Homo sapiens: one gene and its partners. The protein of the gene in region 1 interacts with the protein of each later gene in a biochemical or structural test. Each region holds a gene or a part of one and is shown on either strand. Other genes may lie near its edges. The genes, in order: CTSL, SERPINB3 and RXRA.

Region 1 (7,393 bases):
GTTCCCACCCCCAGAAGCACTTTGCCGTGTAAGACATTGTCTATGGAACATCAATGTCACTTAGGGCCTTGGAAAGACATTCAGGAAGGGAGTTACTACGCCTGAATTTCTGGAGATGTGTTTAGTAGGGAAGAATTCACTATAATCCATGAATGATTGATTGATTTCTAGAAAGGCTCACGCATGTTTCTTTTTGCCACTCAGGACTGGACCTCTGAATCAGTGCGGAATATGAATGAGAGCGGTCAGGGGAGAACTGGAGGATGCTGGTGGAGGCTGGAAGGCTTGCAGTCACCTGCCTGTGCTTATCTAAGTGATGAGAATGTAGGAGCAGCAGGACCTGGCCCATCACTACCCTATGTTTGTTACAGGAGAGAGGACCGTCCTCCCACAGGTCAGAGCTATTGTTAATCAAGGTGACAGTGCAAGATGCATTCCCACTCCTGACTTCTCGCTGTAAATAGGTTTCCTGAGTGGTGTTGGTTTATTTTCAATTTGGAAGCCAGTTCAATCAAATGTTTCACTAGATTCAAGTTTGATGAAAATACTAGCAAATCCCCCAACTAACGAGTCACTATAAGTAACTCAAGGCATCAGTCCTGCTCCCCACATAAGGGAGTACTGGTCCTGAGGAAATGGGACCACATATATAGGGAACAAAAGTGATACAATGGGCCATGAGGGTGTGATGAGTATCCCAGTGATTGCTTTGGGTAAATTTTGCTGGCCACATCGGTTTCAGTTCCTCTACATAGACAAGGAAATGCTCCTCATGACCGACAACAGCTCCTCCTGCACCGAGGCTGTCTAGTCATTAGAATGGTCTCTAGAAGACAATATCATCAGCAATCACTGCTAGCAAGGAGCTGGCTTCTGTGGTACTATGTTGTTGCTAATAGTTTTTGTTAGAGCAACTGCATTGTGGGAGACCTGATCCAGGGAAGGCAGAAACCAAAGCCTGTGCTCCCAAGGAGGTTATGGAAAATGAAGAAAAACACCAGCCCCTCTGCAGGAGGAAGCTGGAAATGGTTGGAAGGACCACCCATGGCTAGAGCCCCAGCACTTGGGTCATGACTCACCCTGGGTAGGTCAAGTACAGGCCCCACTTCTTCAGGCCTTGGTTGTGGATCAGACCCTGGATTCTTCCCCTCCGGGTACAGCCCAGTTGCCATGATGCTCCTTGAGTCAATGAGCTCTTTGGTCTGATCTTCTGCTCAAGCAAAGAAAGGGTCCGGCTTCAGTTCTCAGAGGCTGATAAGTACCAAGGTGGCAGAATATGGGAGTATCCTGCAGGTGCTCCCAGCATCTGCCCTGGCTCAGGTGCCAGAGGCTTGCGATTTTCTAGCTCTTGACCTCACACCCTCGATTGTTTGTTTTCCAATTCCTTCCTGAATAACGGGGTGAACATGCCACCCCTCCTGGTGGCGAATGGGGTTCCTCAGAACTGGGAGGCCACAGTCCAGATTCTGAGGCTCTTCACTAAGCAAGTGCTGGAGAGCAAAGCCACTCACTCACAACTCTCTCTCTTTCTCTTTCAAATTTGGGGAAGGGGAGGCCATCTGAGCAGTTTCTCTCACACTCCCCAGTAAGGAACTCATGAAGGACCAAGTGAGCTCTAAGCCCCCGGTAGAAACATTCAGCTGTTCCAATGAACTTCTTGTGATCCTGAAATCTGCAAAGTTAGAACCAAGGCAGACGTAGGTACTCCAGTTACCTAACACCACAGAAATATTGTTTTTATTTCATAAAATAATAAATTTAAATACTGCTATGGTTTCCTTGTTTGCCCCCTCCAAAACTCTTGTTGGAACTTATCTCCAATGTGGCAGCATTAAAATGTGGGGCCTTTAAGAGGTGATTAGGACATATGAGCTCTTCCCTAATGAATACATTAATCTATTCATGGAATAATGGGTTCATAGACCAACAGGTTATCTTGGGAATGGGACTGATGGCTTTTTTTTTTTTTTTTTTTTTTTTTGAGATGGAGTCTCGCTCTGTCACCCAGGTTGGAGTGCAGTGGCGTGATCTCGGCTCGGCTCATTGCAACCTCCACCTCCCAGGTTCAAGTGATTCTCCCGCCTCAGCCTCCCAAGTACCTGGGATTACAGGTGTGCACCACCACGCCTGGCTAATTTTTGTATTTTAGTAGAGACAGGATTTCACCCTGTTGGCCAAGCTGGTCTCAAACTCCTGACCTCAAGTGATCTGACTGCCTCGGCCTCCCAAAGTGCTGGGATTACAGGTGTGGGCCACTGCGCCCAGGCAGGACTGATGGCTTTAAAAGAAGAGGAAGAGACCTGAGCTAGGACACTCAGCCCTCTCGCCCTGTGATGCCCTACACCACCTTGGGCCTCTGCAAAGAATCCCCACAAGCAAGAAGGCCCTCACAAGATACACTTCCTGGACCTCAGACTTCCCAGCCTCGAAAACTGTAAGAAATAAATGTTGTTCTCATAAATTACACAGTTCCAGGTATTCTGTTATTAGCAACAGAAAAGAGACTAGGACAGATATCACAGTTAGATTGTATTCTACACATTGTGACTGGTTCTCCAGAGAAGCAATGCATAAAAAGAGGAATAATCGGCCGGGCACGGTGGCTCACACCTGTAATTCCAGCACTCTGGGAGGCCAAGGCAGGCGAATCACGAGGTCAGGAGTTCAAGACCAGTCTGGTCAATATGGTGAAACCCCATCTCTACTAAAAATACAAAAATTAGCCAGGCGTGGTGGTGCGCGCCTGTAGTCCCAGCTCCTCTGGAGGCTGAGGCAGAGGAATCACTTGAACCCAGGAGGCAGACATTGCAGTGAGCTGCGATTGCGCCACTGCACTCCAGCCTGAACAACAGAGCCAGACTCCGTCTCAAAAAAAAAAAAAGAGGAATAATCTCCAAAATAGTAAACAAATTCCTGCAGACAGGAAATATAATGGTAGATACCTGAGCTAGGAGAGGGGGAATGGGGAACTATTATTCAATGGATACAGTTTCAGTTTAGGAAGATAAACAAGCTCTGGGAATAAACAGTAGTAATGGTTACACAATGTGAAGGTACTTAATGCTACTGAACTCAAAGTTGGTTAAAATGGTACTTGCTATGTGAGGTATATTTTACCACTTAAAAAACTATAGGTGATTGTGCTTCTAAAAGAGTTATCAGTTTAATCTTCAATAGAAATCAATGGACTTTGTTCATTTTTAACAAAGTCAAAATATGCATACGAAAAGGTTATGGGGTAAAGGCAGAGGTAATTATTTTTTTCCCCGAAAGGTATTTTCTACAATGAATGTTTTTATGTAATAAAAAATGAAATGACAAAAGTTTAGAATGTTTGTGGGTTTTGTTCCTTAAATCCTTAATTACATAAATTAATATCTACATTATACAGATTAAGATACATATTTTTCCTCTATCTACAACATTTCTCCATTCTCTGTATCTTAAATCCTGACATTAAATGTCATTAAATTTCTTAAATCTCAAGAGAACGACTTGGTTACCAAGGAAGATATAATCCATAGCCTAGAGAGTGGGCGAATAAAAGCAGCTTCTAATGTTCTCAACTGCTTTTCTCCTGTCAACCAAATGTTTCTGTAAATAACTCATTTCTGTTGGTTTTGGGTAAGACGTGGGAGAAGGAAGAATCCCTGAATGGAGGAGTCTGGAAAGGATGCTTGACAAAACGCCCGCGCTCTCTGGAGACGCAGCCAGTCTCCTCCCTCCTAGGGTCTGGTCTTGACGATAGCATCTCGTGTTTTGGGGATGCCTTTCCTTACCAGATTCTTCTAAAGCCCAGCTGCACCCACCCTTAAGTGGGAGATAAGGCTTCTGCCCGCGGGCTCTGCGTTCGTCCACCCGGCCCCACGTTTGCTGTGGACTAAACAGGAGCCACTGGACTAGAGTACACTTGACTCTCGGCTCTGCGGACCAAAAATTCCAGGACTAAGGAATAGCAAGGTTAGGCTGAAACAGTCCACACAGGGCTTGCGGTAAACGTCTTTTCAGGAGCCACTCGCCCAGTGCAGTAAGTCGTGTACTTAGTTGACTCGAGCGCTCCAGGGAGACGCCCGACCCTACTCTGCGCCGCCCCGGGGCACCAGCTCTGCTTCCTCCAGGTCCACTGAGGCAGGCACGCCCAGCTCTGGGACAGTCAGTAAACAAGCCACGAACCGCGCCAGGGATCAGAGCACCCAGAGTCCCCGCCCAGCTGCCGGCACAGCCAATCGCAGCGCAGCCAGGCGGCGGGGCGGTGCCGGCCGAACCCAGACCCGAGGTTTTAGAAGCAGAGTCAGGCGAAGCTGGGCCAGAACCGCGACCTCCGCAACCTTGAGCGGCATCCGTGGAGTGCGCCTGCGCAGCTACGACCGCAGCAGGAAAGCGCCGCCGGCCAGGCCCAGCTGTGGCCGGACAGGGACTGGAAGAGAGGACGCGGTCGAGTAGGTGTGCACCAGCCCTGGCAACGAGAGCGTCTACCCCGAACTCTGCTGGCCTTGAGGTGGGGAAGCCGGGGAGGGCAGTTGAGGACCCCGCGGAGGCGCGTGACTGGTTGAGCGGGCAGGCCAGCCTCCGAGCCGGGTGGACACAGGTACCGCAGCCAGGCCGCGCCGCGCCGACTCAGGGCCTGGCCCGGCCAGACAGGGAAGCTCAGTCCCCGCACGCCAGACAGCGGTACTCCTGCTGGCGTCACCGCAAACATCCTCTGACCGCTACAGCCAGTGTGTGGCGCAGGCGTCATGTCCCCGGCCCTGCCACGCCTGGAGCCCTGGAAGCTGGCTGCAGGGCGCTGGCTTCCCGCGTGCGGCCATATGACCCCGTCCCTGATTTAGGGGAGCAGTTTGGGGTGTCGGCAGCACAGGCCCAAGTGAATGAAGGAGGGAGCAGTGCGTGCTCTCCTTCCCAGTTTTTCCTGGGAAAGCATTTCAGAAAGGTTTCATTTAAGGAGAGGTTGGGGCGGCGCGGTGGCTCACTCCTGTAATCCCAGCACTTTGGGAGGCTGAGGTGGGCGGATCACCTGAGGTCAGTAGTTCGAGACCAGCCTGGCCAACATGGTGAAACCCCGTCTCTACTGAAAATACAAAATTAGACGGGCGAGGCGGCGCACGCCTGTAGTTCCAGCTATTCAAGAGGCTGAGGAAGAATGGCTTGAACCCGGGAGGCAGAGGTTGCTGTGAGCCGATATCGCGCCGTTGAACTCCAGCCTGGGCCACAGAGCAAGACTCCATCTCAAAAAATAAATAAATAAATAAATAAATAAATAAATAAATAAATAGGAGAGATTGGAAAACTTATCTCAGCTTTTGGTGTTTGTTAGTCAGGAAGATGTGTGAAGGCCTCCTAACTCTTGGGGATCTCTTTGTCCCTACTTGGGAATCCCACCTTATCATTAGTGAGGTTTTGCCTGGGCACGAAACCTGGATTTTTTGCGATTGGTACAAAACCTGGATCAACCGTTTCCCGGTTTCCTAGTTGTTGCCTTAAGCTTCTCACACACAAGGTAGTTTCATACCGTTCTCATAACCTAAATTGTCATCGCATAAACTGTTTCAGCTCCTACAGCTCTGGACAGGCTGCTTTTCATTTTGGTGAGTCCATCCAGTACCTCCACGTGCCCTGTTTTTCTCCAGGCACATCCTTGGCCTCTTCCACAGTCCTTGGGTAAATGCTTGGGAGAATAATTTAAATATTTTTATTCTACCATGGTGGCCCTAATTTTTCAGGGGGCAGTAAGATGGCTTTTTAGGATTGGTCTAATCAGATCCTCATTTTTGTTCCCTTCCTAGGTTTTAAAACATGAATCCTACACTCATCCTTGCTGCCTTTTGCCTGGGAATTGCCTCAGCTACTCTAACATTTGATCACAGTTTAGAGGCACAGTGGACCAAGTGGAAGGCGATGCACAACAGATTATACGGCATGGTTAGTGAAACTTCCCCAGAAAGAATAGTCCTGGCTGTTGAGAAGTTTTAGTCAGAGAGTAGCTTCTAGAGGCCAGCTTTTACCAATAGCCTAATGTAATAACCTAATGGCGTGGATTATGAGCACAATGTGGACATTCATCCTTGTTGTGTCTCAGTTTGGAGAACAGCATCCCCAGAGGTGTCAAGCCTTCCCTTGCCATGGTTTCTCTTCCATCTCTGTCTGCAGATTCACTTGGTGAGGATGAGTTGGGTTTTAGGTAGAAGTAAAGAGCATCAGTTACATGTTTGCCTCTAGAATGAAGAAGGATGGAGGAGAGCAGTGTGGGAGAAGAACATGAAGATGATTGAACTGCACAATCAGGAATACAGGGAAGGGAAACACAGCTTCACAATGGCCATGAACGCCTTTGGAGACATGGTAAGTGTGCTGTGGACTGCCGAGCTCTGTGCTTCCTCTCTTCGGTTCTTTACTAAGGTAATCTCTTGCTTTTCAACATTTTATTTCCTTTTCCTTGAAGACCAGTGAAGAATTCAGGCAGGTGATGAATGGCTTTCAAAACCGTAAGCCCAGGAAGGGGAAAGTGTTCCAGGAACCTCTGTTTTATGAGGCCCCCAGATCTGTGGATTGGAGAGAGAAAGGCTACGTGACTCCTGTGAAGAATCAGGTGAGACAGTGTCAGGTTCAGACCTCCCATCTTCCCAGGAAAGCCAAGAAGTGATTGACATCTTTGTTTTGGTAGACTTTAAAGTGATGTACAGTTCACTTTTTAACAGTATTCAGATGTGTGAGCTGTTGTCAAAGTCTTATTATTTTTTTTTTGTGGATGACAGCTTTTTTTAATTCCCTTTTCAGGGTCAGTGTGGTTCTTGTTGGGCTTTTAGTGCTACTGGTGCTCTTGAAGGACAGATGTTCCGGAAAACTGGGAGGCTTATCTCACTGAGTGAGCAGAATCTGGTAGACTGCTCTGGGCCTCAAGGCAATGAAGGCTGCAATGGTGGCCTAATGGATTATGCTTTCCAGTATGTTCAGGATAATGGAGGCCTGGACTCTGAGGAATCCTATCCATATGAGGCAACAGTAAGTGGAGCTCCTTGTCATCATTCCAGCTCAGCTTTTGGAAGGTGGACACTTTAAGAGATAACAGATACCTTTTTCGGAATTCATATATTAGGGCTGGGTGGGGTGGCTCACGCCTGTAATCCCAGCCCTTTAGGAGGCTGAGCCAGGCAGATGGCTTAAGCTCAGGAGTTTGAGACCAGCCTGGGCAACAAGGTGAAACCTTGACTCTATCAAAAATACAACGAAAATTAGCCGGCTGTGGTGGTGTGCGTCTGTGGTCCCAGCTATGCTGAGGTAGGGCGATTGCTTGAGTGTGGGAGGTGGTTGTGCAAATGCACTCTCCAGTCTGAGTGACAGAATGAGACCCTGTCTCCAAAAAAAAAAAAAAGTTCACATATTAGATGGCAGAATA
Region 2 (4,314 bases), on another chromosome or scaffold:
GCACAGGATGAAAGATAAAAACAAAGATCAGAAACATCATGGTTGAAATTACTGGAAAGAGGTCTGAGAAGCAATGAATCTCCTTCAGGGAAGCCTGCTCTGCAGTTTGCAAACCACAGCCTCTTCTGCTTCTGCCTTTTGCCAGATGATATTGACCTTCGGTGACCTCTTTCTTGCGCCAGCCCGCACTCCGCTTTTGCATTGCCTACATGGCACCAGTATAAAAATATGCATGGACAGGAGATACTGCATCTATTCAGGGTCTGGATTCAGCTTACTATAATTATAAATAACTAAATTTGGTAATATATAGTTACATAAATTACTCTTACTTCCTACTTTCTTCCTTCATATCTCAAAGGAATATTTAGATGCCATCAAGAAATTTTACCAGACCAGTGTGGAATCTGTTGATTTTGCAAATGCTCCAGAAGAAAGTCGAAAGAAGATTAACTCCTGGGTGGAAAGTCAAACGAATGGTAGGAGAGCCACCCATTATAGAAACACCTTTGAGAAATCTATGCGAGTGAGCCCTATGCCTGAAACTGCATGGGGGACCATGGGTGGGAATTGAGATGGCTTTGCAGGGAGGGAAGAAGAGGGCACTCCAGATGAAGAGTTTTTCCAAATGATTATGAAGAGAGCCTAGGGGAGCCAAGGAGGAAATCACAGGAAGCCAATTAGAAGAAAACATAGCCGGAGGATTCTTTGCTCATGTTCCTGGATGACAATAGCTTTGTGGATCCCTTGTCTCCACTCAGGTCCAATTTGAGATCATGTCCTTTACTTTAAATCAGAACCAATATTTTATGATGAATATTTAAAAGGAAACATTAGAAAGCATCTCCCTTCCCCTTTACTAATTGGGAAACAAGCAGCTCTCTGGTAAATCACCCTTTTGCCATCTGAACTAGAGCTGCCTGGATCACATCTCTAGCCACAAGTTCTGCAGGGATTATCACAGCTCTCTTCCCCATCAAGGGCAAGAGCTTAACAAATTCTCCATTCTATAGACATCTATCCTACCTCCCACCTCTCATTACAGGCCAAACTTACAGCAACTCAACATGAGAGTGAATAGGAAGATACCCCCGGAAGTAGTGTCTGACAGCACAGGACATGCGTTTCATATTACAGAGCTCATGTCACTTGTCCTAAAAAGCAGTCAGGGCCTACTTCCTCTGAATGGGGACCCCGTAGTTAAAAAAAAAAAAAAAAAAGTAGGAAGAGGAGGGAGGGAGAAAGGAAAGACACATGTTGAAAGAGTAGACAAAATCAGTTTATCAGTATTCCAAATCAGATGAATGGACTCATTCATACACAGAGAACGTGAACTCCTTCTCTATCACAAGAAGTGATGTCTCCATTAAGGGCAACTTTATACGACTGGAGCCTTGAAGAAAGCTGCATCTGGTGAACCACTGGTCAGTGAGTCTAACAATTCAAAGATCAAAGTCAGTGAGTCTCAAGTAGGGATTTGGGTCAATAATTAACGATCAGTCACGAACATTTGCAAAGCATCTTCCAGACAAGCCATTTGTAGCTTGTGTAAAAGACTCTTTTATTCTTTCCCTTGCAGAAAAAATTAAAAACCTAATTCCTGAAGGTAATATTGGCAGCAATACCACATTGGTTCTTGTGAACGCAATCTATTTCAAAGGGCAGTGGGAGAAGAAATTTAATAAAGAAGATACTAAAGAGGAAAAATTTTGGCCAAACAAGGTATTGTCTATATTTTATTTATATAATGTAATATGTTAATAAATTTAAACATTTCTGATGGAATGTACCATGACAAGTAAAAAATAAAATTGTTCATGTCTGTTTTTTTGTTGTTTTAGTCTTATAACTTTATTTAGTTAGGAATTCCTGAAGAAGCTATTGTCTCTAACTCATTACATTCTTGGATTATTTCTTAAAAGAAGGATGTGTTGATATCTCAATAATATTATCTTTTTGCCTTGTGTCTCACTTGGTATTTGTTGGACACATTGATTTATTGTAGAATACATACAAGTCCATACAGATGATGAGGCAATACACATCTTTTCATTTTGCCTCGCTGGAGGATGTACAGGCCAAGGTCCTGGAAATACCATACAAAGGCAAAGATCTAAGCATGATTGTGTTGCTGCCAAATGAAATCGATGGTCTCCAGAAGGTAAGAACTTGCATCTACAACTCTTCCTTCTACTGCCTGACATTTTTCCAAAGATACCAAGTTTAAACAAGGTAAAAGCTGGTGACCGAGTTGCCTCAAAATAATGAAAAATTCTAAATGAGGAATGATGACTCACCTTCATATTACAAAGATTTAAGCATAGGGCCTGACACAAACTGAAGGCATAGTTAATGATTAATTTATTAGAGTTACATGCATTGGATATCAATTTAATGATATTATTATGCAGCAATTTAAACTTGACTGGGAGAAATATATAGCAATGTGAGGAAAGTTTACGAATACACCAAGTAAAAAAGGGAATAGAAATTTAGGAATTTGGGGAATTGCAATTTAATAATTGCAATGTGTACTAAATAATGTATACAGAAAAATAAGATGAGCCTATTAAAAATTGACACATGTAGTAGGCTGTTGGCACAAGAAATAGTGATATATATAGTTCATTGTGTACAAAATAATGTAATCATATTTTTACATGTGTATCATACAGTTGTATACATACATATGTACACATTACATATACATAAAAACTTGATTCTGTTTATACACATACACATATAACCCAATGTATTTATATATCCAGGACTCATATTTTGCCTATTAGAATAATAATATCTAATAAAGTGAACCTTCTGTATTTCACATTTGTTGCCAAAATAAGGATTCTCCACATAGTCAATTCATTGTTAAGGTGTATTAGAAATCAACAGTTAGTCATATCAGTTTCTTTTTTCCATTTGTATAGCTTGAAGAGAAACTCACTGCTGAGAAATTGATGGAATGGACAAGTTTGCAGAATATGAGAGAGACACGTGTCGATTTACACTTACCTCGGTTCAAAGTGGAAGAGAGCTATGACCTCAAGGACACGTTGAGAACCATGGGAATGGTGGATATCTTCAATGGGGATGCAGACCTCTCAGGCATGACCGGGAGCCGCGGTCTCGTGCTATCTGGAGTCCTACACAAGGCCTTTGTGGAGGTTACAGAGGAGGGAGCAGAAGCTGCAGCTGCCACCGCTGTAGTAGGATTCGGATCATCACCTACTTCAACTAATGAAGAGTTCCATTGTAATCACCCTTTCCTATTCTTCATAAGGCAAAATAAGACCAACAGCATCCTCTTCTATGGCAGATTCTCATCCCCGTAGATGCAATTAGTCTGTCACTCCATTTGGAAAATGTTCACCTGCAGATGTTCTGGTAAACTGATTGCTGGCAACAACAGATTCTCTTGGCTCATATTTCTTTTCTTTCTCATCTTGATGATGATCGTCATCATCAAGAATTTAATGATTAAAATAGCATGCCTTTCTCTCTTTCTCTTAATAAGCCCACATATAAATGTACTTTTTCTTCCAGAAAAATTCTCCTTGAGGAAAAATGTCCAAAATAAGATGAATCACTTAATACCGTATCTTCTAAATTTGAAATATAATTCTGTTTGTGACCTGTTTTAAATGAACCAAACCAAATCATACTTTTTCTTTGAATTTAGCAACCTAGAAACACACATTTCTTTGAATTTAGGTGATACCTAAATCCTTCTTATGTTTCTAAATTTTGTGATTCTATAAAACACATCATCAATAAAATAGTGACATAAAATCATTTTTGCTTTACATTTTCTCTCTGGAAAGGGAAAGTGTCCAGTTACACACAGGAAAGACAATTTAGAGATATATTAATCACAAACAAAGGAAAATTAAAAACAGAGTAGTTCATGATGAGCCTGGAGTAGAAGGCATATCCCAGAACAGGAGGAGCCTTGTAAACCACATTAGGAACTTCCTATTTTATGCTAAAGGGATAAGAAACTCATTACAGGCTTTGATGGTTGTTTGTCAAAGAGGGGCATAAAATTATCATATCTTCATCTTGAAAATACATCTCTGGTTACTCTGATATCAATGGATGAGAGGAAAGAACAGTGTGGTTACCATATATAAATCAGGAAATCATTAGAGTATTGGGGGTGGAAATGAAGAGAAAGAAACAGCCTGGCAGAATTATTTAGGAAGTAATAGTTAAAAAAAGACATCTAAGTTTCTGAGCTATCTGACTGGAAGGATGGAAGAAAATGTTGTTTTTGAGAGAAAAAAAAGACCATGGGTTTAAATTTGTACTTGA
Region 3 (7,117 bases), about 47 Mb from region 1:
TCGCAACGGGCTGCCTGCTGCCACCTGGCAGGGAGAGGGGATGCATGACAGGCGGGGAGGTGCCAGTCCCGAGTCTGTGACGGTATTTCCAGCCCTGGCTTTTCCATCAGACCGCCCGTGGTGCCGTCTGCATGCTCCCACGGTGATGGGGCACAGACCCCACCGTTCCTCCCTCATTTTGGTTGCACAGCCTGGGGCCAGTTGGGTGCCATCCCTGCCTGGTCTGTCAGCACACCTGGGCGGGGCGGCCTCGGGGGTGGGAACTCCCTCCTGGGGCCCTGGGATTACTCAGTTGTGAAATGGGGAGAATGGGGACGGTGACACCTGCCCCCGGGTTCCCCATGACAGGGTGGGTATGTGCTGGGAGGGTGTGGAGGGCCGAGCCGGAGCTGGCACGGTGGTCCCCACCAACTTCTTGCTGATCACTTACCCCCTCATGCCTCAGTTTCCCCCTCTGTAAAACAAAGTTAATGCCAGTTTTCCAGGATTACAGTTGGGATTAAGTGGGAAATTAATGACAGTGTCGGCCATAGAGGCTGGAGCCTCTAGAGCGCTCAGGGAGTGTGGAAGGTGCTGAAGGTGACTGTGTGACTGCAGGTGACTCCATGTCACCCTGTCTATAAGAGCTGTTAAAACAGCAGTGCGTGTGTGCGCGAGGGTCCCTGACTGTGTGACTGCAGGTGATTCCACGTCACCCGGTCTCCAGGAGCCCTTAAAACAGCAGTGCGTGTGCACGCGAGGGTCCCTGTTTCTTCCTCCCCGATGCCTGCTCTGCTTCATCTGCACTGGAACCTCATGTTGAGGGGCTGCTGTTACCTAACTGTCTGCCCCCCAGGGAACCCCCACTATGTTGAGAGGCTGCTGTTACCTAACCACCCGCCCCAGGGAACCCCCACTGTGTTGAGGGGCTGCTGTTACCTAACCACCTGACCCCCAGGGAACCCCCACTATGTTGAGGGGCTGCTGTTACCTAACTGTCCCCCAGGGAACCCCCTGATGTTGAGGGGCTGCTGTTACCTAACTGTCTGCCCCCCAGGGAACCCCCACTATGTTGAGAGGCTGCTGTTACCTAACCACCCGCCCCAGGGAACCCCCACTATGTTGAGGGGCTGCTGTTACCTAACCACCCACCCCCCAGGGAACCCCCCGATGTTGAGGGGCTGCTGTTACCTAACCACCCGCCCCAGGGAACCCCCACTATGTTGAGGGGCTGCTGTTACCTAACCACCCGCCCCAGGGAACCCCCACTATGTTGAGGGGCTGCTGTTACCTAACCTTCCCCCCTGGGAATCCCCCCGAAAGAGGCTGCGGCTCTCACGCACCTGCCTTCAGTTGGATAACCTGCTGTTTGGTGGCATTCCACGAAGGGCACACAGATCCCCGAGAGTCCTGGGACCCTGCTGGCAGCAGTGGTTCTGGGGCCATCCTGGGAACATCCCTGGGTGCTCTCCCACGTGCTCCGTGGCAGGAGTGTCCTGCACACGCGGGAGGAAGCTTCTGGGGCACATGAGTTTGTGAGCTCCCGGGTTCCACAAAGCTCAAGGGACTTTGTGTGGGACTTCTCAGGGCCTTTCGTGTGCCGGTGTGTACTGTAGAACGGGCATTCTCAGGAACCTCTTTTCTGTGGAACACTTCATGGGATTGGGGTTCCAGAGCCTGTCAGGATGGGTCGGTGACATGCTGCCTCTGTAGGGTCCCACCAGGGGCTGGGGAAGGGGCGAGCCCCGTGGGGCCTGGAGACAGCTGAGTGACTGTGTGCCTCCTCCCCAGGCTGGAATGAGCTGCTCATCGCCTCCTTCTCCCACCGCTCCATCGCCGTGAAGGACGGGATCCTCCTGGCCACCGGGCTGCACGTCCACCGGAACAGCGCCCACAGCGCAGGGGTGGGCGCCATCTTTGACAGGTGGGGGTGGTCCCGGGAGGGGCGAGGGCGCTTCGGTCACCTCCGCCACCAGGCCAGCTGAGTTCAGCCACCTTGGCCCCGGTGCACATCCTGCCTAGTATTATTTCAGTGCATGAAGGGTGCACACATGGAAAAAGAGAAAAGCATGAGGAGGAGGCTCAGAGCCCTGTGCCAGCCCTGCCTCTGGGGCATCTGTAACCACAGGGAGCACTTGGCCTATCTCCCTCCATCTCTTCTTTTTTCACGATCCCATGTATTTATCCGTGGGAAGGAAAGCTTCGTTTCTTTTTAAAGTGATTATACCGTAGATGCAGTTTTGTAAAAGTGTCAATTCCAGTTGGCATGTCGCAGGCTGCTTGAGGCTGGCACGGTAATGCCGTGGCAGCCCGGGGCGTGGTGCGGCCTAACGCCTGTCCCCGTGCAGGCAGGGGTGTCGGGACCGCAGTGCTTCACACCTCCCAGTGGAGCAAAGGGCTGCACCTCAGCCACTTCTCAGGGGACACACTGGAGGAGCAGCACTGGCTGGAGGGCCCACCCTCGTCCGGGCCTGGGTGGTCCGTGTCCGTTCATGTTGCCCTCCTGGAGTGCTGGCCAACTCCGCTCTGCCAGGCGAGGCGGACAGTAGCTTCCTTGTCCCTGTCTCTGCACAGCCTTTTTTTTTTTGAGATGGAGTCTCGCTCTGTCGCCCAGGCTAGATTGCAGTGGTGCAATCTTGGCTCACTGCAAGCTCCGCCTCCCGGGTTCACACCATTCTCCTGCCTCAGCCTCCCGAGTAGCTGGAACTACAGGCGCCCGCCACCACGCCCGGCTATTTTTTTTGTATTTTTAGTAGAGACGGGGTTTCACCGTGTTAGCCAGGATGGTCTCGATCTCCTGACCTCGTGATCCGCCCACCTCGGCCTCCCAAAGTGCTGGGATTACAGGCGTGAGCCGCCGCGCCCGGCCTCTCTGCACAGTCTTTCTCCACGAGTCTAGAGAGCCACACACACCAGACTGGGCCTTCTGGGGACCGGATGTCAGCTTCAGCTGGAGCGGGAAGGCTGGGGAGGGGCACTGCGGGGTCCCTTGGGCAGGGGTCTGCAACACAGGAGCCGTGGGTGGGGAGGAGCAGGCCACCTGGAGAACGTGGCCCCTGAACACGAGAGCCCCAACGTTAGAGGTGAGTAGAGGCCATGCACCGGCACTTACAGGGGGATTAATGCCCCAGCAGCAATGCCCCAGGGGGTGGTTCAGGTCCCAGAGTCCCAAGGGTGATCCTGGAACTTGACCTCCATGGGATGTGCCAAGTGCAAAAGGGTTTGTGGCCGCAGACGGTGGGCAAACGGTAGTTCAAACAGTGTCCTTGAGGGTCTTTGCCGCAGGACTTGTCAGGGCCTTTAAGAAGTTAGTGTACAGGAGGGTCCCCACGGGGGCTGCAGGGTGCAGTGTGCAGTGTGTATTGCCCACAGAAGCTTCTTTAGAGGGGTACTGGGGATATGGCTTTGGGAAGCGAAGCCCCAGCCACTTGCCCAGCTGACAGATCCTTTGTCTGGCTGGTAGAGAGATGGCGATGACAGAGGTTTCAGGGTTACATTCTCTGGGGTCCCACAGCAGTGACTACAGAGGCCCCGGCATTTCCTCGCCTTTTTTGCGAGTGGAATGCAAAGTCTGCCCTCAGTGGCCCAGGTCTTTTCCATGCCCGCTGCCCCATCCCTCTGCAGCTGTGTGCTCCTGCCTCAGAGCAGACATCGGGGGTCCCTCCCAGCTCCTGTTCTGTCCCACCCTGTTCTCCAGCCTCCTTCAGATCTTCTTCCAGGAATCAACCAGGGCACTCCCCATTCTGCAGACCCTCAGGGCCGCCCTTGGCCCACAGGGGAGAGCCCAGGCTCCTTAGGCAACCATCCCCACCTGGTCACCTCCTTTCCCCCGCTGTGGCCCACCCTTACTTCCTGGACACAGCAGTTGAGCTTTGGGGTTGGTGGGCAGGCTGCTGAGGCTAGGGGGCCCAGTACACTGCAGAGGCTGGTGTGATTCAGAATCCAGCTGCAGGGCTGGGGCAGCTGAGTCTGAATCCAAGAACGCCCCCAGCGTCTCCATGGAGGGAGCTGGCGGGCTTTCCCCGTGTTGAGGCTGGTGGATTTTTTTTCTCTGGTGACAAGAAGTAGACATGCCTCCCTCTGGCAGCCCCCACCCAGGGACACCAGGCCCTGGGGAAAGGTATCTTCCTGGACTGAAGGGAGCGGCTGGGGCTGTGGCATGGGAAGGGGCTTTGCCTCAGGTGGTGCTGGGTCCACAGCTGAGGAGGGACAGTGGTGTGTCTCACTGGGTTCGGGAGGGGTGGACTCTGTGCCCTCTGTGCAGCTGCGGCTCACCTCAGTTTAGCTGTCACGAGGCCCCTCCTTAGCACCTCGGTTCCCAGAATAAAGCCCCGCAGGCAGACCCTAGAGGGAGAGGAGAGGAGCCCACCCTCCGGGCAGGGCCAGGCAGGCCTGGCAGGGGCGGCACCTGGGCCTGGGTTCCAGCCCACTCCCTCTCGGGGTGTCTGGGAGTCCTTGCCTTGGCTTGGCCCATCTCAGCGGCCCTCGGGCCACGCCGGGCTCTCCAGAGGCCTTGGGTATCTGGGGTGTGGCCCTGGTGAGGGCTGCGACCTAACTGGGATGGGGTGTCTGCCCTCCTCCTCTGCAGGGTGCTGACGGAGCTTGTGTCCAAGATGCGGGACATGCAGATGGACAAGACGGAGCTGGGCTGCCTGCGCGCCATCGTCCTCTTTAACCCTGGTATGGCCTTCCTGCCTTGAGGCTTCTGGCCCCGTTCTCTGGTGGGGCAGAGGTGCCTGGGCCTCCTCCTGGCTGTACTTCTTGCCTCTGGCTACATGTGGGGCCAACTCCCACCCTCCTTGAGCTCAGTGTGCCCCCCTCCCAGTGAAAGTGTGGCCATGCTGCCTTCTGCTCACCTTGAGGGCCAGCCAAGGGGGCATGGTCCCTGGGCACAGGGGGACCCAGCAAGGCAGTTGTCATGAGGGGCTTGGTGGTGCCGTCTGGGCTCCGCGGTTCATAGTGTTCATCACTGTGCGTCGGAATCCAGACTCCGAAAGTGGCCAGCTGTGGTTGTGAACTTCCGGTGCTGAAGTTCAGGAGTCCCAAGCCCTGCAGGCTGGGGATGGGTCAGGCCTGCCGGGTGTTCCAGAGGGGACCAACCTCATCCCCAAGCCTCGGGTCCAGGGTGTTTCTGGGGCTGGGCCCCTGTGGTTGAGGAGAGCAGGGCTTGGGGCTGTGGGGCTGGGGCTGGGCACAGGCCTCCTGGCCGACAGTGCGGCCCTTCTCCAGCCTCTGGGTTCTCGGCTTGAAAAGCCTCCTAGGTGCTACTCCTTCGCCCAACAAGTGCTGACACGTGCCTGTTTGCTCGGTGCCCTGCTGGCATGGGAGGGCCCCTTCAAGCTGCTGGATAGGGCTTGCCTGCCTAGAGCTTGGGGTTTAGAGGGTCACGCCCACCAGCAGGCACCCCCGGCACGTGAGGGCAGGAGCACGGTTGGTCGAGGGTGCGGGCCACTTCCTCCGGGAGCTGCAAGTTAGGGGCCAGGGGAGTGAGAGGCACGGAGGTGGGGTGGGCTGGTGGAGGCAGCCCAGGCAGGGCCTTGAAAGTCTTGCTAAGTTTGGGTTTTTTCTTGGGGCCACAGGGAGCCAAGTCCTGAGGGGTTCCAGCCGGGAGGGAGCTATGGGTTTCTGTGTTTGGAAACTCAGCTCATTGCGTGATAGGGGCAGGTGGCTGGGGTGTGGAGGGAGAGGTTTGGGGCTGCTGTGGGGAGCTCACTTGGGCTATGGTGGAGGGAGTGGAGCCCTCTCGGCTCCTGGCCCTGACCTTCTGACCTTGCCCTTTGTCAGACCTGGCTCTGAGGGACCGGGCCGGGATGGAGATGGGCATCTTCTTGTGGGGAGAGCTTGTTTCCAGGGTCATTTTATCACCCAGGCTGTGCATCCGGGCCGTAATCCTGCCAGCTCGGAGGCTGAGTCATGCCACGGCCCGGCCCGGCCCGAGGAATCCCCATTCAGGTCCTGTGTGGTCTGGTTGCTAGAGCTGGGGCACCAGCAGGACCTGGGCACCGGCTTGCAGGGAGGGTGAGATTGTCTGGCACAAGCAGGGTCCAGGCACAGGCTTGCAGGGAAAGCGAAGAGACCAGGGCACAGGCATGCAGGGAGGGCGAGGAGACTGGCTGGAGCGGAGGCAGCTGGGGGAGCCAGGTACGTTGCCAAGGAGCCCAGGACACAGGCCAAGGTGGCATTCACAGGGGGTCCCTGGGCCTTGGGGGCCAAGGTGGCATTCACAGGGGGTCCCTGGGCCTTGGAGGTTTTGGTGGCTGCAATCTTAGCCTCTCTGTCCACTCTAGGCTCTTGAGCCCGGGTCCTGAGCTCAGGACTCCGCAAGCACACCGAGGATGGGTTTCCGCAGGGTCTGGGTACTCCTGGGGGCAGCAGCGCTATCTCCCATCCATGTTATGGGGCTGGGACCCAAGGGCAGCAGCAGCATCCATTGTCTCTCCCAGTTCCCAAGGCGGCTGGAAGGAAGGCAGCAGATCCCTGACACTTTATCGATGGGGAAACCGAGTCTCTGGAGGTCAAATAGTTGACCCAAGGTCACGTGGCTGGCAAGTGGCAGAGCTGAGCCTGGACCCAGAGCAGCCTGGCCTGGCCGTGGGTTCCACAGTCGTCCCCCTGCCACCAGGCTCTGGGGGAGCGGGCGGAGGCATGTCCAGCGGCATTCCTCCACCACCTGCTCTGCCCATGGTGGGGCAGCCTGGGAGACCCCACACAAGCCTGGGTCCTGGGGGCAGGTGCCCGAGACACGCCCCAGCTGAGGGTTCTGACCTGTGGCTTCTTCCTTTCAGACTCCAAGGGGCTCTCGAACCCGGCCGAGGTGGAGGCGCTGAGGGAGAAGGTCTATGCGTCCTTGGAGGCCTACTGCAAGCACAAGTACCCAGAGCAGCCGGGAAGGTGGGTCCCGCCCCGTCCCACACACACCCCAGACCCAGGCTCTTGTCTCCAGAGCCCCCACCCCCTGCAAGGCCATTTTATGTGAATGAGAAGGTGGCACCCTCCCCAGGCCCAGCCCATGCCAGCAGGTCCTGAGCAGGCAGCAGGAGGTCCTCCAGGCCAGTGGGCTGTGGCGGGCACACCCCACAGGCCCACGTCGTATCCCCACTGGAAGGATTACCTTGCACCTGGCGCATAGTAGGTGCTT

The links.
Region 2: the proteins of CTSL (region 1) and SERPINB3 form a complex in vitro, tested with the Homo sapiens proteins (2 studies listed by BioGRID, with this or other methods).
Region 3: of the proteins of CTSL (region 1) and RXRA, one has a biochemical effect on the other in vitro, tested with the Homo sapiens proteins (one study listed by BioGRID).

Annotation. Positions count from the first base shown.
Region 1 is NC_000009.12:87,721,811-87,729,203, forward strand, and holds the start of CTSL (procathepsin L isoform 1 preproprotein), read left to right. Parts: upstream 1-4,308; 5' UTR 4,309-4,588; intron 4,589-5,550; exon of another isoform or gene 5,551-5,658; intron 5,659-5,783; 5' UTR 5,784-5,793; coding exon 5,794-5,919; intron 5,920-6,216; coding exon 6,217-6,339; intron 6,340-6,439; coding exon 6,440-6,586; intron 6,587-6,774; coding exon 6,775-6,999; intron 7,000-7,393. UniProt on the Homo sapiens protein: Thiol protease important for the overall degradation of proteins in lysosomes. Plays a critical for normal cellular functions such as general protein turnover, antigen processing and bone remodeling.
Region 2 is NC_000018.10:63,654,678-63,658,991, reverse strand, and holds the end of SERPINB3 (serpin B3), read left to right. Parts: intron 1-361; coding exon 362-479; intron 480-1,579; coding exon 1,580-1,722; intron 1,723-2,005; coding exon 2,006-2,161; intron 2,162-2,930; coding exon 2,931-3,335; 3' UTR 3,336-3,795; downstream 3,796-4,314. UniProt on the Homo sapiens protein: May act as a papain-like cysteine protease inhibitor to modulate the host immune response against tumor cells. Also functions as an inhibitor of UV-induced apoptosis via suppression of the activity of c-Jun NH(2)-terminal kinase (JNK1).
Region 3 is NC_000009.12:134,427,338-134,434,454, forward strand, and holds part of RXRA (retinoic acid receptor RXR-alpha), read left to right. Parts: intron 1-1,770; coding exon 1,771-1,903; intron 1,904-4,567; coding exon 4,568-4,659; intron 4,660-6,764; coding exon 6,765-6,870; intron 6,871-7,117. UniProt on the Homo sapiens protein: Receptor for retinoic acid that acts as a transcription factor.